Homo sapiens: one gene and its partners. The protein of the gene in region 3 purifies or fractionates together with the protein of the main gene of each other region. This does not show direct contact. Each region holds a gene or a part of one and is shown on either strand. Other genes may lie near its edges. The genes, in order: PRPF3, SART3, MEPCE and TRA2A.

Region 1 (7,842 bases), on a different chromosome or scaffold from region 3:
ATCCAGGGAAATGGTTAGTACATCAGGAATGCATTCCCCAGCCCTATTCTCAATCCCTAGACAAGTTTTTCCAACTCATTTGAAGGCAAATATTTTCCCCAAGAACCATATCTCAAAGCAGAAAGAGATCCCATTTGATTTTTAATTCTAACTCTTAAGTTGATCAATGAAATCTGCGGAATAAACAAACTCTGTGAATAAGCTAAGTCTGAGAAATTAGTTCTAGCTTCTTTCTTGATCCTGTCATATCAACAAGGACTTGCAAACCTAGTAACACTAAAACAGAACTAAAAAAGCCCATCCAGAGGCCAGCTTTTCCATTCTTCCTACTTCCAGGCAGGCATTCCCTAACCCAACCCTGACTTATGTAGGATTCCCTTCTTTTAAGGTATGCAAGTAAAAGAGGGTTTATCCAGGTCAGTCATCTTAGATATTAAATTAAATCTCATGATCTTTAAGAATGTTCTGGCCGGGCGCGGTGGCTCACGCCTGTAATCCCAGCACTTTGGGAGGCTGAGGCAGGTGGATCACGAGGTCAGGAGTTCAAGACCAGCCTGGCCAAGATGGTGAAACCCCATCTCTACTAAAAACTACAAAAAAATTTAGCTGGGCATGGTGGCAGGCGCCTGTAATCCCAGCTACTCGGGAGGCTGAGACAAGAGAATCACTTGAACCCAGGCAGCAGAGGTTGCAGTGAGCCAAGATCGCGCCACTGCACTCCAGCCTGGGCAACAGAGTAAGACTCCGTCTCAAAAAAAAAAAAAAAGAATGTTCTGTCACATTTCTCTGTGGTCATATTCATCCCAGTGGGAATTCTGCATACAGGTAATTATCATGTTCAATCTACAGGGTCTCCATCAGCTGACTTGATGATCCTTCAGCTCAGAAAAGAATACCCTCATTTTTATTTTGAGACAGAGTCTCACTCCGTCGCCCAGGCTGGAGTGCAGTGGCGTAATCTTGGTTCACTGCAACCTCCATCTCCTGGGTTCACTTGATTCTCCTGCCTCAGCCTCCCAAGTAGCTGGGACTACAGGCATGCACCACCACGCCTGGCCAATTTCGTAGTTTTAATAAAGACACGGTTTCACCATATCGGCCAGGTAATGCCTTACCTCAAGTGATCTGCCCACCTTGACCTCCGAAAGTTCTGGGATTACAGGCGTGACCCACTGCACCTGTCTCTACTAAAAATACAAAAATTAGCCAGGTGAGGTGGTGGGCACCTGTAATCCCAGCTACTTATGAGGCAGAGGCAGGAAAATCACTTGAACCCAGGAGGCGGAGGTTGCGGTGAGCCAAAATCATGTGCACTCCAGCCTGAGCGACAGAGTGAAACTGTGTCTCCAAAAAAAAAAAAAAAAAAAAAAAAGCCAGGTGCGGTGGCTCACGCCTGTAATCCCAACACTTTGGGAGGCCAAGGCGGGTGGATTATCTGACGTCAGGAGTTCGAGACCAGCCTGGCCAACATGGTGAAACCGCATCCCTATTAAAAATACAAATATTAGCTGGGCGTGGTGACCTGCACCTGTAATCCCAGCTACTCTGGAGGCTGAGACAGGAGAATCCCTTGAACATGGAAGGCGGAGGTTGCAGTGAGCCGAGATCGCACCACTGCACTCCAGCCTGGGCGACAGAGCAAGACTCCGTCCCGGGGAAAAAAAAAAAAGGTGTCTAAATGGGAGTCAATAAATTGACTGACCTCAATTTCCAAGCTCAGCTATTCCCAGCAGTGCCACTTATCAAAGATCTGGGAATCATCTTTCAAGATGTTTTAAGACATCTTTTCTCCAAAAAATCCAGTCTGATTAACTTCTACATTCTTGGTAAGTTTAGCCTCTATACTAGAGTCTATAAGACTTGATGCCAAATAGACTCACTTTTGGTATATCCAAAGGAAGCTAGTAGATTGAAGTGATGAAACTAAGACTGAAAGATTTTCTGCCTCAGTGACAAGTTACGTGAGTAATTCTATGGTGGTTCTATTACCCCACAATGAGTAGACATACAGCGTACCAATTTCTACATATTACACATGTATTGCACAAAAGCGGCATATCCAGATGCCATAGAAAGTGAAAACAAGAGTTCACACAGAAACAGTTGGGACACTGAGCCCCACCATTTACAAGCCCTTGGGCAAGTTAAGTAATTCTTTGGAGCCACAGTTTACCATCTTACAAAATGAGTACTGCCATATTTACATCCTAATTCATTCAATAAATATTTATTGAGTAACTACTAAGTGTCAAGCAATGTACTAGGTGCGGTGGATACATAAAACAGTGAGCAAAACTAACAAGAGTCCTCACCTTAACGGGTCTTATATTCCACTAGAATTGAATGATAGGCTAGAAAGTATAAGCAATTTGAAAGCCCAAAGCAATAAATGAGGTGCCACTGTTACCTCCATAAGATGACGTGCAAACTAAACAGCCAATGGATAAAAAAGTTTCAAACGGTAATTAGCCTTGTCACTAATCAAATGCTCAACAATAACTGCGAGGTGCGGGGGTAGTGGGGGTGCGGAAGGAAAGCGAGGTACAATGATCTCTCCTCTCAATGAGCAGGCAGCAGAATCCAAATCCAGTCTTCAGAAGGAATTCCTTACTCCGTGCTCTTGTTTGCTACAACCTGAGTTTCCCTCTGCAGCCCCCCACTCCCCCGCTAATCTTCATTTTTACTCTCTCCGTCACTCCAACCAGTCTCTTACTCTACCTTGTTCTACCTAAACTCCTCACCCCAGAGCTGGTCTCCCAACCCGGTCTCCTTCCCGCCCCCGCCCTTTTCCTCTCAACAATCTCATTCCAACCTCTTCTCCCACCAAACCAGGTACTCCTTTCACACTCCTTCCCGCTGAACCCTCCCGCTTCGGTCCTCCCCTTGGACTGAGTCCCCGGCCACAGTGGCGCGGACTGGAATTACCCTCTGTGGGCCCGGGGCCACTACTCACCTCACAAACTTCAGCCCCTGAGACGGAGCCCGAACGTTACACCGGAACCGGAAACCTTCTGACCGCCCTACGGCGTGCCGTCGCTACCGCCACCGCCGCCGCCACGCCGCTGTCTCCCAACACGTGACCAAGGAGGGCCGGGCCGCCAATTCGCGCAGCCGTATTTGCCACTTTCTTGGAGGCTGAACGCATGCGTCGCAGAACCGAAAAGTTTCCCTGAGCAATTTCCTTGCTTTCTATTTCCCAGGCTAAACCTATTAGCTAGATTTCTGCCAAGGTTTTTTTTTTAGCTTTTTTTTTGAGACGGAGTCTCGCTCTGTCGCCCAGGTTGGAGTGCAGTGACGCGATCTCGGCTCACTGCGAGCTCCGCCTCCCGGGTTCACGCCATTCTCCTGCCTCAGCCTCCCGAGTAGCTGGGACTACAGGCGCCCGCCACCACGCCCGGCTGATTTTTTGTATTTTTAGTAGAGCCGGGGTTTCACCGTGTTAGCCAGGATGGTCTCGATCTCCTGGCCTCGTGATCCGCCCGCCTCAGCCTTCCAAAGTGCTGGGATTACAGGCGTGAGCCACCGCGCCCGGCCGATTTCTGCCAAGTTAATGTCTTTAACTTCCTGAAGCGGAAATTGGGCTACTTGCTGTTTTCCTCATATGGAGAATAAGTGCGCAAAAGTAAACTTAGGCTAGAATGAAGAGCGAGGCTTCTGCGTTTGTGTTCAAACACAGCCTTTCTGGTAGAAAGTAAACCCTTTCTCCCTAATTTAACAGTGGTGTCAGGCCGGGCGCCGTGGCTCACGCCTGTAATCCCAGCACTTTGGGCTCAATAAATGACAAGTGAGACCTACCAGTATTGTTTTCTCCATTCTATCAATAGGTCTATATATTAACTTCTCTCCAAAATGAGGCTCTAACCTACTGACCCTTTATTTTTTATTTTTATTTTTTATTTTTTGAGACGGAGTCTCGCTCTGTCGTCAGGCTGGAGTGCATTCGGCTCACTGAAACTTCCGCCTCCCGAGTAGATGGGACTACAGGCGCGCGACCACCACGTCCAGCTAACTTTTGTATTTTTAGTAGAGACGGGGTTTCACCATGTTGGCCAGGATGGTCTCCATCTCTTGACCGCGTGATCCGCCCACCTCGGCCTCCCAAAGTGCTGGGATTACAGGGTTGAACCACCGCGCCCGGCCCCTACTGACTCTTTAAATCGATGATTCATAACAACATGTGTGTGGACAAAGATAGTTTGGAAAAAGATTGTCCAGTATTATGACACAATTTCTTATATGAGAAATGGAAAAAATTCCATTATTTTTATATTATAAACTATCCAAACTAAAGTTCCAAAATGTCTTCTTGGTGGTAGGCTGACTAGAAGATGCAGTTGTTCTTCAGGGAGGTTATTCACATTCCCCAGATAGTAGGAGATTTTTGTATCTAAAGATAACAATGTACATACCAAGCCCCACCTTCCCTGATGGGGCAGCACGACATAACAGGATAAAGCCTGGCTCTGAAGGAACAAGTTGGGGGAGTTTGAACCTACTGCTCAACTTATTCACAAATCAGTTTCCCCACCTACAGCTTCTAACACCAATGTCTCACAAAATATTCACTCAAAAAGTCTGTTGAATGGGTTAATGAGTTTCAACATTGCAGGGTTGTTGTAAATTTATTTTGTTTTGGTGCTTCTAACAGTCTGCGTTCAATTCCCTATGGAGAAATGTGTTTCTAGAAACTGGTTTTAGGCCAGGTGTGGTGGCTTACGCCTGTAATCCCAACACTTTGGGAGGTCGAGGCGGGTGGATCACTTGAGGTCAGGAGTTTGAGACCAGTCTGCCGACATGGTGAAACCCCATCCCTACTAAAAAAAATGCAAAAATTAGCTGGGTGTGGTGGTGGGCACCTGTAATCCCAGCTACTCAGGAGGCCGAGGCAGGAGAATTGCTTGAACCCGGGAGGTGGAGGTTGCAGTGAGCCAAGATCGCGCCACTGCACTGCAGCCTGGGCGACAGAGGGAGACTCCATCTCGACAAAACAAAACTGATTTTATTTCCAATTTTTAGAATTGGATACATTTAAACTGTAGCTTTCCGGTTACTAGCTGTGTTTCCTTCAGGTAATTTTTTCTGAGATTGTTTCCTCAATTATAGAATAAGAATCTCTACTTCAAAAAGGTATCGTGAGGATTAAATGTAATGTGTAAGACACAGTGTGGTACTGGCGTAAGAACAGGCAGGTAAACCAACAAAAGAGAATAGAGGGTCGGGCGCGGTGGCTTACGCCTGTAATCCCAGCACTTTGGGAGGCCGAGGTGGGCAGATCACGAGGCCAAGAGATCGAGACCATGCTAGCCAACATGGTGAAACCCCGTCTCTACTAAAAATACAAAAATCAGCTGGGCGTGGTGGCACGCGCCTGTAGTCCCAGCTACTCCGGAGGCTGAGGCAGGAGAATCACTTGAACCCGGGAGGTGGAGGTTGCAGCCAGCCGAGATTGCACCACTGCGTTCCAGCCTGGTGTCAGAACGAGACTCTGTCTCAAAAAAAAAAAAAAAAAAAAGGAAGAATAGAGAGCCCAGAATAAACACTCACATATATGGTCAGCTGTATTTTTTTTCTTTTTCTTTTTTGAGATGGAGTTTCGCTCTCATTGGCCAGGCTGGAGTACAATGGCGCGATCTCGGCTCACCGCAACCTCCGCCTCCCAGGTTCAAGCAATTCTCCTGCCTCAGCCTCTGGAGTAGCTGGGATTACAGGCAAGCGCCACCACGCCAGGCTAATTTTGTATTTTTTTTCTTCTTTGTTTTGAGACGAGTCTCGCTCTGTTGCCCAGGCTGGAGTGCAGTGGCACAGTCTCAGCTCACTGAAACCTCCGCCTCCTGGGTTCAAGCAATTCTTCTGCCTCAGCCTCCTGAGTAGCTGGGACTACAGGTGTGTGCCACCACGCCCGGCTAATTTTTTGTGGTTTTAGTAGAGACGGGGTTTCACCGTGTTAGCCACGATGGTCTAGATCTCCTGACCTCGTGATCTGCCCGCCTCGGCCTCCCAAAGCGCTGGGATTACAGGCGTGAGCCACTGCACCCGGCCTCATTTTGTATTTTTAGTAGAGACGGGGTATCTCCATGTTAGTCAGGCTCGTCTCGAACTCTGGACCTCAGGCGATCTGCCTGCCTCGGCCTCCCAAAGTGCTGGGATTACAGGCATAAGCCACCGTGCTCGACATTTTTTTTTTTAGACGGAATCTCCCTCTGTTGCCCAGGCTGGAGTGCAGTGGCTCAATCTTGGCTCACTGCAACCTCCACCTCCTGGGTTCAACCAATTCTCCTGCCTCAGCCTCCCGAGTAACTGGGACTACAGGCGCATGCCACCATGCCCAGCTAATTTTTTTGTATTTTTATTAGGGGTTTCACCATATTGGCCAGGCTGGTCTCAAACTCTTGACCTCGTGATCTGCCCACCTCAGCCTCCCAAAATGCTGGGATTACAGGCATGAGCCCCTGCACCTGGCCATGGTCAGCTGATTTTTGACAAAGGTGCCAAGGCTATTCAATGTGGAAAGGACAGTCTGTTTAACAAATGATGCTGGGAAAAGCAGATATCCACAAACATAAGAGTTAAATTGGACCCCCTACCTCATACCGTATACAAAAATTAATTCAAAATGGATCTAAGACCTAAATTTAAGAAATATACAAAAACTAGAGGTCGGGCACAGTGGCTCACCCCTATAATTTCAGCATTTTGGGAGGCTGAGGCTGGAGGATGACTTGAGGTCAGGAGTTCAAGACCAGCCTGGCCAACATGGTGACTCAATCCCCGTCTCTTCTGAAAATAGAAAAATTTACCAGGTGTGGTGGCACACTCTTGTAGTCCCAACTACTTGGGAAACTGAGGCAGGAGAATCGCTTGAACCCAGGAGGCAGAGGTTGCAGTGAGCTGGGATCACGCAACTGCACTCCAGCCTGGATGACAGAGGGAGACCCTGTCTCAAATAAGTAGATACATACATAAAAGTAGGGCTGGGCACAGTGGCTCACATCAATAATCCCATGCAACTGCACTCCAGCCTGGATGACAGAAGGAGATTCTATCTCAAATAAATAAATGTAGGGCTGGGCACAGTGGTTCATATCTGTAATCCCAGCACTTTGGGAGGCTGAGGTGGGTGGATCACTTGAGGCCAGGAGCTCTAGACCAGCCTGCCCAACATGGTGAAACCCCATCTCTACTAAAAATACAAAAATTAGCTGGGCATCGTGGTGCATGCCTGTAATCCCAGCTACTCAGGAGGGAGGCACTAGAATCTCTTGAACCTGGGAGGCAGTGGTTGCAGTGACTCAAGATTATCCCACTGCACTCCAGCCTGGGCCACAGAGTGAGACTCTTTTTTTTTTTTTTTTTTTTTTTTCGGAGACACAGTATCGCTCTATCCCCCAGGCTGGAGTGCACTGTTGCGATCTCAGCTCACTGCAACCTCTGCCTCCCAGTTTCAAGCAATTCTCATGCCTCAGCCTCCCGAGTAGCTGGAATTACAGGTGCCCGACATCACGCCCGGCTAATTTGTGTATTTTTAGTAGAGATGGGGTTTCGCCATGTTGGCCAGGCTGGTCTGCAACTCCTGGCCTCAAGGGATCTGCCTGCCTTGGCCTCCCAAACTGCTGGGATTACAGATGTGAGCCACTGCGCCCAGCCTGGGGTGAGACTCTTGTCTCAAAAAATGCCTAAAACTAAGGAGCAATAACTGTAAAACTCTTAGAGGAAAACACAGGAGAACAGGAGTGTATCTTTTTGACATTGGATTTGGCGATAATTTCTTGGATATGATGCCAAACATACAGGCAAACAAAGGAAAAACAGATGAATTGGACTTCATCAAAATTTAAAGTTTTG
Region 2 (7,021 bases), on a different chromosome or scaffold from region 3:
AAAACAGTGTGTTCTCGTTTCGCTTCTGTGCCTCAGTCTTTAAGATACAAAACTATCTCAGGACACCACATCCTGGGCCCAGCCTGCAGAGTGGTCACTTTTCTGCCACTGCCCTCAATATGAGGGAGCACTGAAAGGCTCTTGACTTAGAACCCCTTCCCCTTTCTGTCTAAAGCCGAGGAGCCATCTGTGGTTGCGAGCACGCAGCACACCAGGCCTGTCCATCCCCAGTGCACTGCTGGGTGGTGGGAGGTCCGCCGGGCCAGAGTGAAGTAAGGCATTTCCTGTCTCCCAGCGTCCCGTTCACTTTCTCAGAAACAGCTTGGCAAAATCGGCATTGGACATCTTGGGTGCCTCGGTGGCTGCTGGGGCGGCAACTGCAGGAGCCGCGGCAGGGCCGTTCTCAGCCTGAGGAGCTGCAGCACTTGGGCGCTGCAGGGCACGAGGCAGTAGAGACAGCTGCGTCCTTCCCTTCCCCCTCCTAAAAGAGCAAACACTGAATGGACCTTTTGAAGCAACAATTCGTGGCCCCTCATTTATTTGTGAAAATAAGCCAAGACAGTTTTAATATAACCAGAAGTTAAAAGGTGAAAAAAAAAAAGGATAAGATAATCCCTGCCTCCTTAATTCTGTTTATGAAGTAAAAACTGCTTCAACAGACTTGGCCTTGTTCAGTTTTGGCAAAGATCAACCCTGAGCACCAGTCACACTCAGAGGGGATCAGTGTGACTATCACCTCTCAGACCTCACCAGTCACCTGGCAATTCTGCTATCTCCTCCTCATCCCAAACCAGCGAACAGCACAGCTTATGTGGATCATAGCTAGGGCCGTAGACTGGCACACACATGGGTATGAGATTTCTTTGTAAACACACAGATCCAACTGGCAAAGGGGACTTTAAAATAATCACTGCCTTATTTCTGTCTGAAATAAATGACAAGTGTAAATTGGCCAGTACCAGGCAGAGGTCACTGCCTAGGCTTGCATCCTGCTCTGGACGCCTTGCTCCAGTGGAACCACAGTGATTACCACAAGGAACAGCACATCTTGGCTTTTCTGTCCTAACAGGAAGCTAATTCATCCCGGGTTAATCCCCCCGTGATCCATGAACTGGTGCCAGCCAGGACGAAGTTTGCACTAGTCTACCATGCAAGCACTTACGCTCCGTATGTCTGCGGCAAAAGCATGGGGCCACCTGGTGCCTTCCTGGTCTCCGGCTTCTCTGGAACTTTCCTCTGAGGAGGGTTGCTGATTGCCACTTTGATGATGTTCTCTTTGATAGTCATGCCGTCCATCTTCATCACAGCCTGCGACGCCTGGGATTCATTTTCATACTCCACGTAGGCCAGGCCCTGGAAGAGGCAAGATCCAGAACCAAGTCAGATCCCGCAGACTAGGGACGCAACCTCCTCCTGCAGGGCAGGCACTGGGCTTCCTCCCGGAGACCAGCAGACCAGGCCACAGCAAACGACCCACCAACAGGTTACCTTCCCCACCACCGCATCCTCTGTCTACAGGCTTATTTCCCCACCCTACTCTCCTTCCCGAGTGCTGCTATGCACTGTAACTTCAGATAACCCTTCCAAGTTCAGCACACCTTGTACGTGCTGCAGAAGTAGAAAGAAAGAAGGAAAAAGACAGATGGACCAGTATAAATCCAGCAAATAAACCAAGAGGTGGATGGGACACAGGGCCAGCAGCCCAGGTGCCCAGGTGAGCCCTCGTGTTTCTGTGCCTTCACCCGCTCCCTCATTTCATCCTCTTTTTCTCTCCATTAACCTGGATAAAGGGGAGGGAGAGTGGGCAGTGGGTAGACAGTAATGAAACCACTTACTACTCAAAATGGGGCACAAAAGGACTTAGCAGGAGACTGAGGGGGCAAGAAGGAAAGACAGGAGAAGAGGCACTGCAATGGAGGGACTCAAGGGGCCTGGTTGGAGGCCCCAGAGAAAGAGAGGCCTGGGACAGAGGGAGAAGGCTGCAGGAGGGCGCCCACCCCAAAGCCCGTATGCTGCTGGTCACAGGGCTTCCCCCAAGCCCCACAGCCAGGGGCCATAGTGTGGTGAATTCATGATCCTCTATTTCCAAGTGTCTTATTCTTTTTAGTACAATTAACTACAAACAGGTTAATCTGACTCCAAATATAAGTAGAGCTAAGTGCAGATCTTTCTGTGAAATTAACTTTTGTTTCTCAGCAGACAAACTAGGAACCCATTCTAGAGGTTAAATCATCTTTGAACCGATACAGAAACGAAGTTTGCCCAAGCCTTGAAGACAAGGCACAATCTGCTCTGACTCTGACCTTTGGTTTGCCAGCCCGGTTGGTGACCAGCCTGAGGTCCTTCACGGTGCCATGAGCCTTACAGATTTCTTCTAGTTCCTCTTTAGTACAGGAGAAAGGCAGGCCTGAGATGAACAGCTTGTGTTTCTCTAGGGAAGTGCTGTACCTGAACACCTATAGGAAGAAGGAAGACAGAGAAAAACCATGATTCGAGGCATGACCCAGCTCACCTGACTCCTCTGACACCAGCCTTGTCCCCATGAGCAGCCCAGCCAGGCAGACTAGAGCCAAGCCATGCTCTGAAACTTGTTAATGGGGCCACCGGAGCGAGTCACTTAACCTCTCCAGGCCTCCATGTCTTCCTCTGTAAAACGGCAAGAATAAAAGTAACCATTCACAGAGTCTCATGAGGAGTCAATGAGCTGACACACATAAAGCATTCAGCACAGTCCCTTGTCATTGCTAAGCACCCAGCAAGAAGGAGCCATGCCATGAGTCAGACCTCAGTCAACCGGCTCAGGATGGACCTTGGCTCACAAGGAAGTTTAGATCCAAACAGAGCGTAAAACTTCCATGTCTATCCTAAATATCACTGCTGCAGGAAGAAAGTGCCTGTCTAAAGCAACCACAGATGAAAGGCATTCTTTTTTTCCATAAACCTACCTTAAAATCGGGGTTTTTGCTCTTATCCACACAGGGGGAAACAAACATTGGCCTCCCTTCTACACTTTTCCGGTCCATCTCCAGTGCCTGAAGGGCTGATTTCTCTTCTTTAAACTCCACGTAGCAGTAACCTCGGAAATCCCCACGGTTGCTGAAGATGGGTCGGATCTGGACCACCTCCCCACAGGCCTCGAAGAGTGGCCTGAGCTTCGTGTCCGGCTCCTGCATGCTGTAGGGCAGGTTGCTGACAAAGACGGTGATGCTGTCCTTGCTGCTGTCGTGCAGCACCTTGGGCATGTCCCTCTTCAGGGAGGCTGCCTTCTCCTTCTGCTTCGAAGGGGGCTCCACATCTACGGCAGCACATTTCCCAGCGGGCCCTGCTGCTACTTCTACATTTTGTGTTTCTCCAGCTGCAGGGATGCTGTTCTCGACCCTTCTGCGTTTGGAAGGCTGCTCTACAGGTTTTCAAAAGAAAAGTAGCCATGGTTAACTGTTACTTCTCTTCAGGGAGCTTGAACAGAGGTGTGAAGTGAAAGTGCTGTGACAGCTGCATGTGACACTTACTCCCTCACCAGACTCGGAGGGGCAAGCACCACCCCGAGAAGTCTTTTGTGATCCGCCTGACCTGTCCCACGACTTTCTGTGCCCCAATTACACTCGGGTAAGTGGGCTCAATCAAGTGGAAGTAATAACATAAATCCCCATTGTCCACTCTTAATTATACAAAAGGTCAGTGGATCTCAAAGTTCAGAAGGCAAATTCCAGGGCCCCTCTCCTACAAAGCCCAGATCAGCAGGGTTGGGATAGGACATGAGAATCTGCACTGGAAAAGCACCCTAGTGACTGATACCCGTGCCCCAGGGAGCACATTTTGGAAAGCACTACAAAGGATCTGTGGTTTCTAAAACACTTTCAATATGGCCTTGTGTCCTTAAGAGAGCTTAACCACAATCTTCTACTGCAGTCTGTCCTCACCACTGCCTCCAGAGGGCCAGTACTGAAGCTCAACAGACATCAGCCTCCGGCAAACAGACCTCCCCATCAGTTCACCCGCTGCCTTTCCAATGCAACGTAAGCCCTGCACACTGCTACTGTATTCAAGAGTGTCCCTGGGCTGGGTCCAGCTGACTGGCCCACCTACCACTCCAGCCTCCTCGACCACTGCCCCACCCCTCTCTAATGCATCTGAGTTCAAACCCAATTATCTGCTGCTCACAGAAAATGCCAGGCTGTGCTGTGCCTTCAGGCTGTACTAACATTGGCTCCTCCCTGTGTAGCTCAGACCTTCCCTTCTCGCTGCCACAGTCACTCGGTCTTCCCCCTGGATGCCGCATCTCTTCCCCCACAGTCTTCCTGGTACGAAGTTGACCCACTAGTGCCTTCTTTGGCCTCCACCAGTATTAACAATGCCATCTCCCACAGTCCTGATCACACGCCATGCCCTGATCACACACCACTGCGGTCACACATCACATTTGCCTTATTCTGCCAAACTGGGAGGCCAGTGGAGCAATGAGCCATCCTCAGTCATTTAGGAAAGCCCAAACAAGGTGTGCAAGCAAGGTCAACTCAACGATGGATGACTCCATTCCCAGTTCTCTCTGGCTCACACATCTGTATTAAGAAAGTATACAGAGTCCTTTCAAGTCCAGAGACAATTCTTTTTTTTGTTTTGTTTTGTTTTTGAGACAGTGTCTTGCTCTCTCTCCCAGGCTGGAGTGCAACGGCATGATCTCTACTCATTGCAACCTCTGCCTCCCGGGCTCAAGTAATTCTCCTGTCTCAGCCTCCCGAGTAGCTGGGAAAACAGGCACCCGCCACCACAGCCAACTAATTTTTGTATTTTTAGTAGAGGCAGGTTTTCACCATGTTGGCCAGGTTGATCTTGACCCCTGACCTCAGGTGATCCGCCCACCTCAGCCTCCCAGAGTGCTGGGATTACAGGCATGAGCTACCGCGCCCAGCCACCAGAGACAATTCTTTACCTTGACTGACTCTCTGAAATAAATATGACCCAGAGCTGCCCGTCCCTGAAATTACAAGGGTGAAAGAAACACTGCTGGAAAATTCCACTAAGTCAGAACCATTAAAAGCAGGGCCAAGGCCAGGTGCAGTGTCTCATGCCTGTAATAACAGCACTTTGGGAGGCCAAGGCGGGAGGATCACTTGAGGTCAGGAGTTCAAGACCAGCCTGGCTAACATGGTGAAACCCCGTCTCTACTAAAATACAAAAATTAGCTGGGCATGGTGGCTGGCAAAGTGTAATCCCAGCTACTTGGAAGGCTGAAGGAAGAGAATCACTTGAACCCAGGAGGCGGAGGTTGCAGTGAGCCGAGATCACGCAACTGCACTCCAGCCTGGGCGACAGAGCGAGACTCCCTCTCAAAAAAAAAAAAAAAAAAAAGTAGGGCCAAGCCTGGCAGGTCTGTGCAGGGTTGGGGCTGCAGCAGTGGTGCGGGATGCTAGAGCCTGAATGGAAGGAAGAAGACAGGCAGGCATGGGGCAGTGACAGGGACCCAGCAGCCTAGATCTGGAAGCCTGAGTGAAAGAAGCAAGGGTGTCCATGCAGGGCCGTGCCTGGCCCCGGGTGTGGGAGACCAAACAGGGTGGGGATGGCACATATGAGAAGGGGAGGCAGGCACAGGAAGTTGATTACATACCTACAGGGGCCGGGTGGAGTAACTGAGGATGCTGAGAATAGAGGGAGCCAAGTTTCTCAAGGTCAGAGAAGGGCGTGACACAGCTGGGCACAGTGGCTCACACCTGTAATCCCAGCACTTTGGGAGGCCGAGGCAGACAGATCACTTGAGGCCACAAGTTCAAGACCAGCCTGGCCAACATGGCGAAACCTGATCTCTACTAAAAATACAAAAAATTAGCCAGGTATGATGGTGCATGCCTGTAATCCCAGCTACTTGAGAGGCTGAGGCACAAGAATCACTTGAACCCGGGAAGCGGAGGTTGAAGTGAGCCAAGATCACCCCACTGCACTCCAGCCTGGGCAACAAAGCGAGACTCTGTCTCAAAAATAAATGAATAAATAAATTTTAAAAAGAGAGAGAAGGGCATTGCAAGTGTGAAGGGGAACCCTGTGGTGTTAGACCGGAACTGGAGGTATTGGTGTGAAATCATGACTTTCAGTATATACAAATAGTTACACAAGTAAATATGGTCATAAATATGTGTACACATGCACACGCACACGCACACACACACACACTCCCTACCCTCGACCACTCAGGCCTCAGAACAATAACCAACAGCAGTGAGCACAACTAGCACCTTCTAAATACCACTCATCACTCAAAGGAACCTTGGAGAAATGATGGATTCCAGGGCTGAGTTATGGAAAGTATAAGATGACCCTTGGGTATTGTGTGCTAGAAGGTAAGGAAATGATCAAAGAACAAGGGGACAGGTCAAAGGGACATAGAAGCCTGTGTGAAGGAACTCTTGCTAGCCAAACCTGGGATAAGTAGAGAATCAGCATAAATAATTCTCAAAAGGGTCATCACCAGTGATGGAACAAAGCGAATCACAGTCCACCTGATGGGACTCAATGGGCAGGCCACAGGAGCACTTGTGCACTATTCCTGCCCGAGATGCATGAGTGGAATCCAATGCTTAGGGAGCATCAGACACACCCAGGCTGAGGGGCACAACACAGCAACTGGCCTGCCCCCTTACAAGACTGCAGGTCATCAGAGTAAAAAAAAAAAGCTGAGGAGTGCTCCAGACTCAAGGAGATCCAGGAGACAGGACAACTAAACACAATAGTGCATCCTGAACCGGATCCTTTCACTACAAAGGACATTATCAGGATAAATGGGAACCCATAGCTCATTGCTAACCCCGGCTCTGATGGCTGCATTCTAGTCATGTAGAAGAGGGCCCCTTGTTTGCAAGACATACACCCTAACAGTGATCAAAGGGTAATGGGTATCAAGCTGGTAACGGTTCAGGGAAGAAAGTTCTTCATACTGTATTCGCAACTTCTCTAACTTTAAGACGTTTCAAAACACAATTTCTCAAGAGCTCCTTACCTTCTTCATCATCGCCCCACTCTTTCTCATCAT
Region 3 (7,134 bases):
CCAGACATGAAAGAGATTTGCAAAAATGTAAACCACCACCATTCTTCATGCTAAATTTTCTTTTGTTTAGGAGAATGTATTTTTCATAAAAACCTGTTTAGGTTAACATATTTATTATTGTTATTTCTAATCAAACTTTAAATGTTTCTGAATTTTAATTTCTAAAATGTTAGTATCAACAGATACAAACCAAATAAAAGCTCTTTGGAGTCCTCCATAAATTTTAAGGGTATAAAAGGGTTCTCAAACCAAAAAGTTTGAGAACTGACCTAGTGAAATAACTTGTCAGTATTGCCAATACTTTTTTAAATAAACAGTAATTCTCTCTCCCCACACACCATTCAGAATGTGTTCCCAAATTTCCTCTTCCTAACCATCCAATCATTCCCTTCCTTATATTGTTCCTCAAATCCTTGGTCTAAGAGAAGTAAACCCTTTAGCATTGTCCTCTAACCCAGACTCCCTGAGCCTCAAAAAAGCGGTATTTAAAGAGTATATTTCAGCCGGGCGCAGTGGCTCACGCCTGTAATTCCAGCACTTTGGGAGGCCAAGGCAGGTGGATCACCTAAGGTCAGGAGTTCAAGACCAGCCTGACCAACATGGTGAAGCCCCATCTCTACTAAAATACAAAAATTAGCCAGCGTGGTGGCAGGCGCCTGTAATCTCAGCTACTTGGGAGGCTGAAGCAGGAGAATCACTTGAACCCAGGAGGTGGAGGTTGCAGTGAGCCAAGACCGTGCTACTGCACTCCAGCCTGGGCAAAATGAGTGAGACTCTGTCTCAAAAAAAAAAAAAAAAAAAAGTATATTTCAAATCTTTTTTAAGCCAGAGTCTGATCTTCCTTTTTGCATTAATAACAGTATGTGGACTCCTGCTTATTTTCATGCCTCAATTAACTAATAGCAGTTTCCTCCCTCCCTCTCACTTTTTCTCCCTCCCTCTCTCCCTCCTTTACTCCTTCCTCCCTCTTCCCTCCCTCTCTTCCTTCTTCCCTCCTTCTGTCTCCCTTTGTCCCTCCATCCCTTCCTCCCCCTCCTTCTCTCCCTCCCCCTCCTTCCTTGCCCTCCTCCCTTTCTCTCTCCCTCTTCCCTCCCTCCTCCCCCTCTCCTTTCTCCCCCTCCTCCTTCCCTTTCCTCCCCCTCTCCTTCCTACCCCCCTCCCCCTCCTCCCTTCCCTGCTTCCCCTCCTTCTTCCTTCCTCTCCCTCCCTCCCTTCTCCCTCCCCCTCCTCCCTCCCCTTTCCTCCCCCTCCTCCCTTCCCCCTTTCCTCCCTCCCTCTCTTCTCCTTCCCTCCCTCCCGTTTCCTCCCCCTCCTCCCTCCCTCCCCTTTCCTCCCTCCCTCTCTTATCCTTCCCTCCCTCTCTCTTCTCCTTCCCTCCCTCTCTCTCTTCTCCTTCCCTCCCTCCCCTTTCCTCCCCCTCCTCCCTCCCTCCTCCCTTTCCTCCCTCCCTCTCTCTCTTCTCCTTCCCTCCCTCCTTCCTTCCTCCCCCTTCCCTCCCTCCTTCCTTCCTCCCCCTTCCCTCCCTCCTTCCTTCCTCCCCCTTCCCTCCCTTGCTTTCTTCCTTCGTGTTTGTGCACAAGCTCAGCAAGCCCGATTTAAAACTTTTAACAAGAAAGAAGAGGCGGGTGGATCACCTTAAGTCAGGAGTTCGGGACCAGCCTGGCCAATACGGTGAAACCCCGTCTCTACTAAAAATACAAAAAAATCAGCCGAGCACGGTGGCGCGTGCCTGTAATCCCAGCATTTTGGGAGGCCAAGGTGGGCGGATCACCTAAGGTCAGGAGTTCGAGACCAGCCTGGCCAACATGGAGAAACCCCGTCTCTACTAAAAATACAAAATTAGCCGGGCACAGTGGCGGGCGCCTGTAGTCCCAGCTCCTCGGGAGGCTGAGGCAGGGGAATCGCTTGAACCCAGGAGGTGGGGGTTGCAGTGAGCCGAGACTGCGCCACTGCACTCCAGCCTGGGCGACAGAGCGAGACAGTCTTTAAAAAAAAAAAAAAAAAAGCCCCAATTCCAAATCCACCTGCAATCCAAAGGGAAGAAGTTTTGCAGAGAAGTTCTTCCCATTTGTGGGGCGCTCCCATTTTTCCTCTCTTCCCTCACCCCTTATTCTCTCTCAGGGATAGCGGTTCAAGTCGGTGTCCCTGAGCCACACGTCCCCCTCTCTCTTCCCCGTCCCCTCCCTTCCTTCCTCCCACCATGAGGGAATCTCCCCTCCACCCCCACTCCTGCCGAGGCCCCGTGATCCTTATTCTCACTCATATCGTTGGTGCCCGCCAGGAGACTGGGCTATTTTTTTTTTGTCTGTTTCTTGGGGGCGACAGATTCTGAGGAAAAAGGGCGAAGGGCTGGTTGTCGCCCTGAGAAAGTTTCTCCTCAGGCAACGGGTGCCAGGACTGGCAGCGCCTAGCACCTTCACCTACAACCAGAAACTAGCTGGCTACCTTCAGGAGCAAGGAGGACCTAAAGGCGATGGGCGGAACCAGCTGCCGCAGCGACTCCGCAAGCCCCTCACACCTCAACCCAGGTTTCCCGCCACCAAGAAAAGGCACGAGGACGCCCTGAGCACTAGCTCCACCCGAGGGCGGTGCGCTCGCGGGGCCGAGGCGCATGCGCAACTGGAAACAGCGTCTGCGTTTCCGCAGCTGAGGTAAATCCGCCATCTTCCACCCGAACGTCCCGGGAAAACTACAAATCCCAGAATCCTCTTTGGTGTCACATATTTTTAGGCGGCGGCCGCGGCGCCTGATTGTTCCTGAAGCACATCTACTAACTTTTCTGTTTCAGACTGCCTTTTCCTCCCTCTTTCCGTTCTCTAATTCCTCCTCTTCCTGCTGGTCTCCTTCACGCCCTCACCTTAGGATTTTGAGACTCTCCTGGACCCCACTGTCACCCCTGCCGCCCTGTCCTCGGCCCAGCACTCCGCTGGCAGGGAGACCGGGCGGCGCATCTCCCCGGGAAAACGGCGTAGACTCGCTTCTTCCTCATTGGCAGAAGCTGGGGGGGCCCAGCGCGGACCGAACCCCCGTCCCCGCCCACACTCGCTGGTATATAAGTCGGCGTGGCGCCGCGGTGGGTGTTGAGAGGCCCGCGAACTGACGGGCCAGTGAGCGGGCGTCGGGAGTGGGCGGATGCGTTGGGGTTCGGGTCGTGGGTGTTGAGGCGGAGAGGAAGGCGTGGTGTGGCGTCTCCAGGTGATTGCGATTGGGGGAAGGTAGAGGAGCCAGAGAACGACTCAGCCGTTTCGGGGGAAGAGGAAGTTGGACAACATCGGCTGTTTTAGTGCTTTTTATTTTTCCCCAATTCAGCAGAGAATATTTTCAAGGGGGGTGAGTTATAATGACCTATCGCGTTTTACTGAGCCCAGTTCCACTCCCGCCCTTCCTTGGCTTTGTAGGGTCTCCCCTCCGCTCCCTCGGAAGCGCTTCTAAGAAGGTGGGCAGAGGGGGGGAGGTTTGCTACCAACAGCTCATGAATAATTCATGAGCCCCGCCCTTCGTCAGGAAGCCCCGCCCCTCCGGATCGCGCTGACGCACGCTGCGTTTACCAAACTTAAGGAAGCGACGTCACAGGCCCAACCCCTAAGACGGGGGGCGGGGCGCCAGTTTCAGCACGTGCTGCCTCTACCCGCGCAAGCCCAAAAGGGTGTGCGCAGGCGCTGCCCACTAGGGGGGAGGAAGGAGGCGGGGTGGGGAGGTTGTTGGATTTAGAGCCGGGCGGAGACCGCTGAGACTCATTCCTCAGGAACAAGGGTCGGGTGTCAAGGAGACCTTTTCACACCAGCTCCCGTCCCCCGCCTACGGTGGGTGGGATCGCGCGGCAGAGACAAAGGAGATCAGTAGGGCCGGACATAGCTGCGCAGGGAAGTAGGGTGTCAGTTTGGGGTGGTGGGCTTTTGCGGGGGCTGTGGGGGGGTTATATTTAAACTCCCAGAGCCGTTAAGTTGGTTCGTAGTCTGATGCGCGCGCAACCAGGGTGGTGGCGGAGTGCGCATGCGTGGTTCCCGGGCGAAGGGAACGCGCGCTCACCGTGCGCGCTCGCGGCCGGGTGGTAGTGGCGGAGGAGAAAGGGGTCGGCGCACGCGCGGTTGAGTCCTCGAGTAGTTCGGGTCTCGCGGGCCTCTTGTTTTGGTCTCGCGGGCTAGTAGGGCGCACTTGGCGGGGAGGCGCTTGGGCGCGAGACTAGGCGTGAAGAGCAGAGCTGCGCGCGCACTCGGGAAAGGGGGGAAGGGAGCAGGGTCCAGGCAGGGGGGGTTAGGCCCCCTGATCCCCCTCGTTACCCCGACTGGCACGGAATAAGGGGAGGAAATGATCGAGATGGCGGCGGAGAAGGAGCCGTTTCTGGTGCCGGCCCCGCCGCCGCCGCTCAAAGATGAGTCGGGCGGAGGGGGCGGCCCCACGGTGCCACCGCACCAAGAGGCCGCCTCTGGGGAGCTCCGCGGCGGGACGGAGCGTGGTCCGGGTCGTTGCGCGCCATCTGCGGGGTCCCCAGCCGCTGCGGTCGGTCGGGAAAGCCCCGGGGCCGCGGCCACCTCCTCCAGTGGTCCCCAGGCGCAGCAGCACCGAGGGGGCGGCCCCCAGGCGCAGTCGCATGGGGAGGCCCGCCTGTCGGATCCCCCGGGGCGAGCCGCTCCCCCGGACGTGGGGGAGGAGCGCCGGGGAGGGGGCGGGACAGAGCTGGGTCCCCCTGCTCCTCCTCGACCCCGCAATGGCTATCAGCCCCACCGGCCACCTGGGGGGGGCGGGGGCAAGAGGAGAAATAGCTGTAATGTAGGGGGAGGCGGGGGAGGCTTCAAACATCCGGCCTTCAAGAGGCGCAGGCGGGTGAATTCGGACTGTGACTCTGTGTTACCCTCCAACTTCCTCCTGGGGGGCAATATCTTTGATCCCCTGAACCTGAATAGCCTCCTGGATGAGGAAGTGAGCCGCACTCTCAACGCGGAGACCCCTAAGTCATCCCCCCTTCCGGCCAAAGGGCGAGATCCGGTGGAGATCCTCATCCCCAAAGATATTACTGACCCGCTCAGTCTCAATACTTGCACTGATGAGGGCCATGTAGTTCTTGCTTCGCCACTCAAGACTGGTCGGAAGCGGCATAGACACCGGGGACAGCACCACCAGCAGCAGCAGGCAGCCGGAGGGAGTGAGAGTCACCCCGTGCCGCCCACAGCCCCTCTCACCCCCTTACTCCACGGGGAGGGCGCCTCACAGCAGCCGCGGCACAGGGGCCAGAACCGGGATGCCCCCCAACCCTATGAACTCAACACAGCCATCAACTGCAGGGATGAAGTGGTGTCTCCCCTTCCATCTGCTCTGCAGGGTCCCTCAGGCTCCCTATCAGCCCCTCCAGCTGCCTCAGTTATCTCTGCACCCCCATCTTCCTCCTCCCGACATCGCAAACGTCGCAGGACTTCCAGCAAGTCGGAGGCAGGGGCTAGGGGTGGAGGCCAGGGTTCCAAGGAAAAGGGCCGAGGGAGTTGGGGAGGCCGCCACCACCACCACCACCCACTGCCTGCAGCAGGCTTCAAAAAGCAACAGCGCAAGTTCCAGTATGGGAATTATTGCAAATACTATGGGTACCGCAATCCTTCCTGTGAGGATGGGCGCCTTCGGGTGTTGAAGCCTGAGTGGTTTCGGGGCCGGGACGTCCTAGATCTGGGCTGCAATGTGGGCCATCTGACCCTGAGCATTGCCTGCAAGTGGGGCCCGTCCCGCATGGTGGGCCTGGATATCGATTCCCGGCTCATCCATTCTGCCCGCCAAAACATCCGACACTACCTTTCCGAGGAGCTGCGTCTCCCACCCCAGACTTTGGAAGGGGACCCGGGGGCAGAGGGTGAGGAAGGGACCACCACCGTTCGAAAGAGGAGCTGCTTCCCAGCCTCGCTGACTGCCAGCCGGGGTCCCATCGCTGCCCCCCAAGTGCCCTTGGATGGAGCGGACACATCAGTCTTCCCCAACAATGTTGTCTTCGTCACGGTAAGAGGGTCCAGAGGCTCTTGGAATAGGGGCCAGGTGTGAAGATGAGATTAAATGGGAATGTAGCAGGGAAGGTTATGACCCAGATCCTCAAAAGAGGGGTCTGGGTTGGCAAGTGAGAGCCTCTGCTGGGCGTCTCTCCCCTCTTATAACCTGGAAAGGTGGGGTGTCTACCTTGGGGCATTGACCCTGGAGTCCTTTGTCATGACTGCAAGGATCTCCAAGATAGAGGAGGACTCTCTTTTTGCTCTGCTCCCGGCTTGGCCTATAATCCACACTGGTCCACCTTCCCTTCCCTTGAAGGCTGCTGCTCACTAGGGAATTTGATCCAGGTGGAACTTGGTCCTCAGATTTACTGAAGGAGCCTGAGAATGGGAGTCAGACATGGAATGTCTTCTAGGGAGGAGATTAGGGTAGCGACAGACTAATACTGGCGTTTCTGCCCTTTGATAGCCACCTTGCTCCTATCAGCGGCTTTTGTTTTCCTAGACAGTTTGTTGAAGCGTGTCAGGAACCCAAGTGGTTTGGCTGTAGATCCTCTCCACATTGACCCTAGATAGTGGGAGAGGGAAGAACCAGAAACTCCTCTGCAGAGAGGAGAGAGTCCTGTGCCCTGCAGAGTCCCCTGACTGCACACAGCTCCCCAGAGAACACTCCAGTTAGGCTGCCTACTGGGATCTTTGGCATTGTGTTGGGTTAAGCCTGAAGAATGGTCTTTTTAGAGGGTTGTGATGAGCTGAGCTTCTAGAAAAGGCTTCCTAAAGGATGTGGCTCTTCATTTCTCTCAGAGAAAGGAAAGAATAGGCCTGAAACTTTGCCAGCCCCAACTGCAGGGAAGGAACCACAGGTCTGCCTTTGAAACCTGGGTTAGTTACCCTTGCAGAACCTGCAGTCACTCCACTTAATGTCTGTGAGTGAGAATAAACACAGGATATGGTCCTGGGACCCTAGCTTTGGAAGACTTCATGGATAATTTGCACCATTTAAAATTACTCAGGCTCCGTCGACCTTTTTTGGCTTACCACCAGTAGGAAGAAGCAGAGGCAGGAAGGTGTAGAGGAGAAAACAAAACTCAAAGAGGGCAGGCACCTTTTGGGAGTTAGTCTGAGAAGAAAGTGGCCACGGGCTAAAGTGAGGCCGCGGGACTGTATCGGC
Region 4 (7,021 bases), about 77 Mb from region 3:
TTTTAGTTTTGGTTTTGGTTTAGTTTTTGCTAACTAGCAGTCTAGGTTTCAACCAGGCAGCCGGGCTCTAAAGTTCTTAGAACATGTTTGCATGCTGTACTATGCTTCTCCCACAGGATACTAACTTAAACTGTGGTGGAGCATGTCATTATTTAATGTTTTGAAATCTGTAAATTTATTTCTAAAATCTGGATTGTGGGAACACTGAAAGAATATCCTCGCTAAAGAATGAAAATGGGCCAGGCATATTGGCTCACGCTTGTAATCCCGACTACTTGGGAGGCTGAGATGGGAGGATTCCCTGAGCCCAAGGAGGCCAAGGCTGCAGTGAGCCATGATCAGGCCAGTAAACTCCAGCTTGGGCAAGAGAGTGAGGCCCTGTCTCAGAAAAAAAAAAGAAAGAAAATGGAGGAGAGGAGGTCTAAATCAACAATTACAGATGAAGTCAGATTAAGTACAAATCTGTAAGGGATGTAAAGCATTTGAATTAACTAGAAAGATGGTATTAAACTGAGGATACTTTTTTTTTATAAGTGAGACGGAGTTTCACTCTTATAAAAAGTAAAGGTTGTTCAAAGAGATTTTCCTCCCCATCTAATTAGAAATAGATAATAATTTCTCTTAGAAGCAAAATTTATTCAAAGAGCTGTGCTAACATTCTTAAATATCTGCTAGGCCGGGTGGGGTGGATCACCTGAGGTTGGGAGTTGGAGACCAGGCTGACCAACATGGAGAAACCCCATCTCTACTTAAAAATACAAAATTAGCTGGGGGTGGTGGTGCATGCCTGTAATCCCGTCTACTTGGGAGGCTGAAGCAGGAGAATGGCTGGACCTCGGGAGGTGGAGGTTGCGGTGAGCCAAGATCGCACCATTGCCCTCCAGCCTGGGCAACAAGAGTGAAACTCCGTCTCAAAAAAAAAAAAAAAAATCTACTAGCCGTAGTAAAAAAATCAATGTACTTTATGTTCTTAGCTCCCACAATTTAGCCTAAGTATTTGCCCTAACATGCTTATACTGGTCCAAACAAGCATTAGGTCATAGCCTGTTCCTCTTCCTTATTTAAAGGTGTTTTTACCTTTCTCAACATTCCACAAATTACTTCCTCCTTCCTTTGTTCTCCTCCGCCTTTGCCTCTTTTAAAAAGTTTGAAGTTACTAGCCAATCAAGACAAATCAGAATGTGAAGTCCCATTCCAGCCAATAAAAAACAGACACAACAGTAAGGTAGACACGTCAGATTATAAATGACCCTGTCTCCTTTGTTCAGTGTACTCTTGTGACAAAACTGCTGACAAGCGTACCCTTTCTACAGAAAATAAAAATGGCCTTACTAAAAAAATGTATGTTCAAGTGCTATTTCTTTACAACACCGAGAAACAAACATTTCTAACACTCTTGTCGCCTAGGCTGGAGTGCAATGGCTCGATCTTGGCTCACTGCAACCTCCACCTTCTGGATTCAAGCGATTCTCCTGCCTCAGCCTCTGGAGTAGCTGGGATTACAGGCGCCGGCCACCATGCCCAGCTAATTTTTGTATTTTTAGTAGAGATGGGGTTTCACCATGTTGGCCAGGCTGGTCTCGAACTCCTAACCTCAGGTGATCCACCCACCTCAGCCTCCCAAAATGCTGGGATTACAAGATTTTCAGGATACATTATGAACATTGCTGGGCTGGAGAGTAAGAACATTTTAATTCAGGCTATAGACAGAAAGCATATCCCAAAGAAGGCCTTGGGTGTACTGTGAATTGTAAAATATGGCTCATCTGCTCTAGTTCTCTTAAAATCTTATCTCCAAATTATTAGAAACAATATATTTATTGTGTATTAGATGAGGTGTTCTAAACAAAGTATTTCTGTGTTTCTTTGATTTTGATTTTAATTTGGAGTTTTAAATAATATTTCCATTCAATAGGCAAATCCAGATCCCAACACTTGCCTTGGAGTGTTTGGCCTCAGTTTGTACACAACAGAGAGGGATCTTCGTGAAGTATTTTCTCGATATGGACCATTGAGTGGTGTCAATGTGGTTTATGATCAGCGAACTGGGCGATCTCGAGGATTTGCTTTTGTGTATTTTGAGAGAATAGATGACTCAAAGGAGGTAAATTTGTCTTTTATATGCCTGATTATAGTACTGAATTAGTGTGAAAAGTTGATTAATAGACTTATTTCTGTAAACATTGCATCCTTTTTTCTTCCTTTTTTTCTTTTTTTTTTTTTTAAAGATAGGATCTTGCGTCCAGGCGCGGTGGCTCATGTCTGTAATCCCAGCACTTTGGGAGGCCGAGGCAGGTGGATCACGAGGTCAGGAGATCGAGACTATCCTGGCTAACACGGTGAAACCCCGTCTCTACTAAAAATACAAACAATTAGCCAGGCGTGGTGGCCGGCGCTTGTAGTCCCAGCTACTCGGGAGTCTGAGGCAGGAGAATGGCGCGAACCCGGGAGGCAGAGCTTACAGTGAGCCGAGATTGCGCCACTGTACTCCAGCCTGGGCGACACAGTGAGACTCCGTCTCAAAAAAAAAAGATAGGATCTTGCTGATTTTGCTCTGTTGCCCAGGCTGGAGTGCAGCCTCGACCTCCTGGGCTCAAGCAGTCCTCCTACCTCAGCCTCCTGAGTAGCAGACACTACAAGTGTGGGCCACCATGCCCAGATAATTTTTTGTTGTAGAGATGAGGTCTCACTATGTTGCCCAGGCTGATCTCGAACTCCTGGCCTCAAGTGATCCTCCCAGAATGCTGGGTTTACAGGCATGAGCCATCATACATGGCCTGTTGTGTCCTTTCTAATTTTGACCTGATTCAAACTCTGCCTCTCAGTGTTAACAATTGGAGTGACTACAGTTTCACTTTTTTTGGTTATGCTCTCTGCTATAGGCATATCCTAATTGAAATCTGGCTGTGTAAAGTGAGCTATATGTGTTTAAATTAATGGAAAAAGTATATGTGTAAGTGTTCTCTTTTGAATAAGCCATAATGATGCTCCAAACAGATGATTACATTAACTTTTAAAAAATAATTCTGATGTGTGGGTTTGATATGTTTAATTTTGTGTCTATAATGAGGAAGGAACTTGTTTTTCTATTCTCTAAATGTTCATTTATCAGTGTGTTCAATAATTGAAAAATAGTACATGGAAAGAATTGATAATTTTTTAGTGCTATTCTTAACTTGCCTAACACAATGAACTAATCAATGTCAATGACTTGAAATAGTGCTATTCTAACATGTTCGGTATTATAAAGGAAGTGGTAGGCTTGCTTTAAGTTTTTGCAGGGAGTCTTGCTGTGTTGCTTAGGCTGGTCTCGGAACAACTCCTGGCCTCAACTGTTCCTCCTGCCTTGGCTTCCCAAGGTGCTAGAATTACTGATGTGAACCACCATACCTGGCCTAGGCTCGCTTACTCTTTACTAAAAGTTGATAGTAATTGATTTAGAAAATTGCATTTTAAAGAATTTGAAGCTCAATACTTTTAGTTTTGTTAGACCTTCTGTCTTTTAAATTAATATATATATATTTGTATATATCTGGAAGTTTTATTAGACCTTAATAATCAGGGTGTTTTTCTTTTCTTTTCTTTTCTTTTTTTTTTTTTTTTTTTTTTTTTTTTTTTTTTTTTTTTGAGATGGAGTCTCGCTCTGTCGCCCAGGCTGGAGTGCAGTGGCGCGATCTCAGCTCACTGCAAGCTCTACCTCCCGGGTTCATGCCATTCTCCTGCCTCAGCCTCCCGAGTAGCTGGGACTACAGACGCCCGCCACCATGTCCAGCTAATTTTTTGTATTTTTAGTAGAGGCAGGGTTTCACTGTGTTAGCCAGGATGATCTCAATCTCCTGACCTCGTGATCCACCCGCCTCAGCCTCCCAAGGTGTTGGAATTACAGGTGTGAGCCACCGCGCCTGGCCAAATAAGGCTATCTTTTAAAAACAGTAAGTTCTTGGCATCTGGTGGGTAGAAGCCAGGAACACTGCTAAATAACCATACAGTACACAAGCTGGCACCCCATAACATAGAATCAGTCTCAAAATGTCAATAGTGCTAAGGTTGAGAAACCCCGGATAACTCTAACAAACTAGTACTTTAGTTTTTAAGTCATTTATGTCACAGGCAGTTTAATGCCTTAATTTGTCAGTCTTATGATTTTTTTTTTTACTGTTACGTATTTGTGATTTATATATTCCTTTTCTCAATTAAGAGATACATGTTATCAATTTAGAAATACTAGGATATCTGAGCTGAAGTAAAAGTTGCAAAATGCAAGCCAGAACAGTGTAATTTTTTTATTATTAATATTTTTTAATGTGAAACGTGTTTATCTCTTGATTCCACCTGTCCCCTTCCACTTCTGGATAAAACTAAAATGGCAGGCCGGGCACAGTGGCTCGCACCTTGTAATCCCAGCACTTCGGGAGGCTGAGGCGGGCAGATCACCTGAGGTCAGGAGTTCAAGACCAGCCTGGCCAACAGGGTGAAACCCCATCTGCTAAAATACAAAAATTAGCCGGGCATTGTGGCAAGCGCCTGTAACCCCAAGCTACTCGGGAGGCTGAGGCAGGAGAATTGCTTGAACCTAGGAGGCGGAGGTTGCAGTGAGCTAAGTTTGTGCCACTTCACTCCAGCCTGGGCAACAGAGTGAGACTCCACTTCATCTCAAAAAGAAAAGAAAAAAAAGCTTAACTGGCAACTTTAAAGACAGGAGCAGTTACTTAGTGGCAGGATTAGAAGTTCCTTTTAGTTCACTAGGTGACAATATGTTACTTAAGGAGCGGGGTGACGAGGCTTGTCAGCTAAATCACAGTTTCTCTTTTCAGTTGCCCAGGCTGAATTCTCAGCTAACACAGGCATGTTGTATGGTTTCTTCTGTATGGCTGAGACTGTCTCCAGTCTTTAGGGACAGGCAATCTGAAGTGATTTGATTTTTTTCTTTTTTTGTTGTTTGTTTGTTGTTTCTTTGTTTGTTTGGAGATGAGGTCTTGCTCTTTGCCCTGTCGCCTAGGCTGGAGTGTGGTGGCACGATCTCAGCTCACTGCAACTTCCGCCTCCCAGGCTCAAGTGATCTTCCCACCTTAGCCTCCCGAGTAGCTGGGACAACAGGTGCGCACCACCATGCCCGGCTAATTTTTGTATTTTTTGGTAGAGACGGGGTTTTGCCCCATTGCCCAGGCTAGCCTCAAACTCTGGACCTCAAGTGATTTGGCCTCCCCAAAGTGCCAGGATTACAGGCATGAGCCACTTCACTTGGCTAAAGTGATTTTTTTTTTTTGAGACGGAGTCTTGCTCTGTTGCCAGGCTGGAGGGCAGTGGCACAATCTCGGCTCACTGCAACCTCTGCCTCCCGGGTTCAAGCAATTCTGCCTCTGCCTCCCGAGTAGCTAGGACTATAGGTGCATGCCACCACACCCAGCTAATTTTTGTATTTTTAGTAGAGATGGGGTTTCACCATGTTGGCCAGGATGGTCTTGATCTCTTGATACCTCATGATCCCCCCATCTTGGCCTCCCAAAGTGCTGGGAGTACAGGTGTGAGCCATCGCGCCCAGCCTAAAGTGATTTTTAAAATCTTTTTAAAATTTGTATTCCTTTTTGACTAACTTCTCCCTGATTCTGAAAATTTCACTGAAGTTTCAAAGTTATTAGTGTGCATATGGTGAAGATAATAATATAAGCTCCTCACCCTGTTTTAGTAAGAAGTACTTAGAGATTTTGTGTGTGTTTTTTTGGGGGGTGCTTAGGATGGGGTGCAGGGAGATCAACTTAGAGAATTTTGATTTTTGGAACTTCAAATGGAAGATGTGTTAAATTTGTTGCAGCTTTGCTTTTGCAGACATTTATGTGATGTAAAGTTCTTTTTAAAAATTGGACCGGGTGTGGTGGCTCATGCCTCTAATCCCAGCACTTTGGCAAGAGGATTTACTTGAGCCCAGGAGTTTGAGACCAGCCTGGGGAAACATAGGGAGACTTGGTCTCTACAAATATATATATGTGTGTGAGAGAATAGGAAAAAAAAATTGTCCCAGAAACAAATAATACTCTCAGAGTTCTTTTCAAAGAGACCAAAGAGACAACTCTTATCTTCAAGAATTAGGCTGTGCAAGGCGGCTCATGCTATTTGGGAGGCTGAGGTGGGAAGGCCACTTGAGGCCACGAGTTAAGAGACCAGCCTGGGCAACAGATCTTGTCTCTACAAAAATAAATGCATGCAGGCCAGGCGTGGTGGCTTACGCCTGTAATCCCAGCACTTTGGGAGGCCAAGGCAGGAGGATCACAAGGTCAAGAGATCGAGACCATCCTGGCCAACATGGTGAAACCCCATCTCTACTAAAAATACAAAAAATTAGCTGGGCATGGTGGCGCATGCCTGTAGTCCCAGCTACTTGGGAGGCTGAGGCAGGAGAATCACTTGAACCTGGGAGGCAGAGGCTGCAGTGAACCGAGGTCACGCCATTGCACTCCAGCCTGTGCAACAAGAGCGAAACTTGGTCTCATAAATAAATAATAAAATGCATTCCATTGAATGGAATACTGTTTAGACCCCTTCTCTACCAAGAATTTTTGTTTTAATTAGCCGAGCATGGTGGCACAAACCTGTGGTCCTAGCTACTTAGGAGACTAAGGCTGGAGGATTGCATAAGCCAAGAAGTTTGAGGCCACAGTGAACTATGATCCACTGCCAGCCTGGGCAATGGAGTGAGACCTCCTTTTTTTTTTTTTTTTTTTTTTAATGACCTTTAGTTTATGGGACACTCTTACGGAGAAATATTTGTGGATACATAAAAATTGTGTAGTTTTTATTAGTTTATTATACTTTTATTAGTTCAGTCTCAATAAAAGGTTGAAAGGCATTACGATAAATTTGTTCTTGTCTGTTTATATCATTTCTTCTTGGCTGCTCACTGAGTCTTAATCAGTGTACTAGACTGCAAACTAAAGAATAAGATTGGGGGCAGGTTATAAAAAGAACATGTATAAAGCTTAGCAAACCCTTTTTAATGTTCTGAAGTCAGTCTTTGTAAGTGAAA

What was found.
Region 1: the proteins of MEPCE (region 3) and PRPF3 purify together in Homo sapiens (affinity purification with mass spectrometry; 5 studies listed by BioGRID and IntAct, with this or other methods). This does not show direct contact.
Region 2: the proteins of MEPCE (region 3) and SART3 purify together in Homo sapiens (affinity purification with mass spectrometry; 7 studies listed by BioGRID and IntAct, with this or other methods). This does not show direct contact.
Region 4: the proteins of MEPCE (region 3) and TRA2A purify together in Homo sapiens (affinity purification with mass spectrometry; 4 studies listed by BioGRID and IntAct, with this or other methods). This does not show direct contact.

The regions. Positions count from the first base shown.
Region 1 is NC_000001.11:150,316,704-150,324,545, reverse strand, and holds the start of PRPF3 (U4/U6 small nuclear ribonucleoprotein Prp3), read right to left. Parts: upstream 3,014-7,842; 5' UTR 2,954-3,013; exon of another isoform or gene 2,408-2,953; intron 1-2,407. UniProt on the Homo sapiens protein: Plays a role in pre-mRNA splicing as component of the U4/U6-U5 tri-snRNP complex that is involved in spliceosome assembly, and as component of the precatalytic spliceosome (spliceosome B complex).
Region 2 is NC_000012.12:108,523,154-108,530,174, forward strand, and holds part of SART3 (spliceosome associated factor 3, U4/U6 recycling protein), read right to left. Parts: coding exon 6,989-7,021; intron 3,401-6,988; coding exon 2,946-3,400; intron 2,457-2,945; coding exon 2,304-2,456; intron 1,354-2,303; coding exon 1,163-1,353; intron 482-1,162; coding exon 304-481; 3' UTR 1-303. UniProt on the Homo sapiens protein: U6 snRNP-binding protein that functions as a recycling factor of the splicing machinery. Promotes the initial reassembly of U4 and U6 snRNPs following their ejection from the spliceosome during its maturation.
Region 3 is NC_000007.14:100,425,711-100,432,844, forward strand, and holds the start of MEPCE (7SK snRNA methylphosphate capping enzyme), read left to right. Parts: upstream 1-4,120; 5' UTR 4,121-4,308; coding exon 4,309-5,979; intron 5,980-7,134. UniProt on the Homo sapiens protein: S-adenosyl-L-methionine-dependent methyltransferase that adds a methylphosphate cap at the 5'-end of 7SK snRNA (7SK RNA), leading to stabilize it.
Region 4 is NC_000007.14:23,507,977-23,514,997, reverse strand, and holds part of TRA2A (transformer-2 protein homolog alpha), read left to right. Parts: intron 1-1,915; coding exon 1,916-2,104; intron 2,105-7,021. UniProt on the Homo sapiens protein: Sequence-specific RNA-binding protein which participates in the control of pre-mRNA splicing.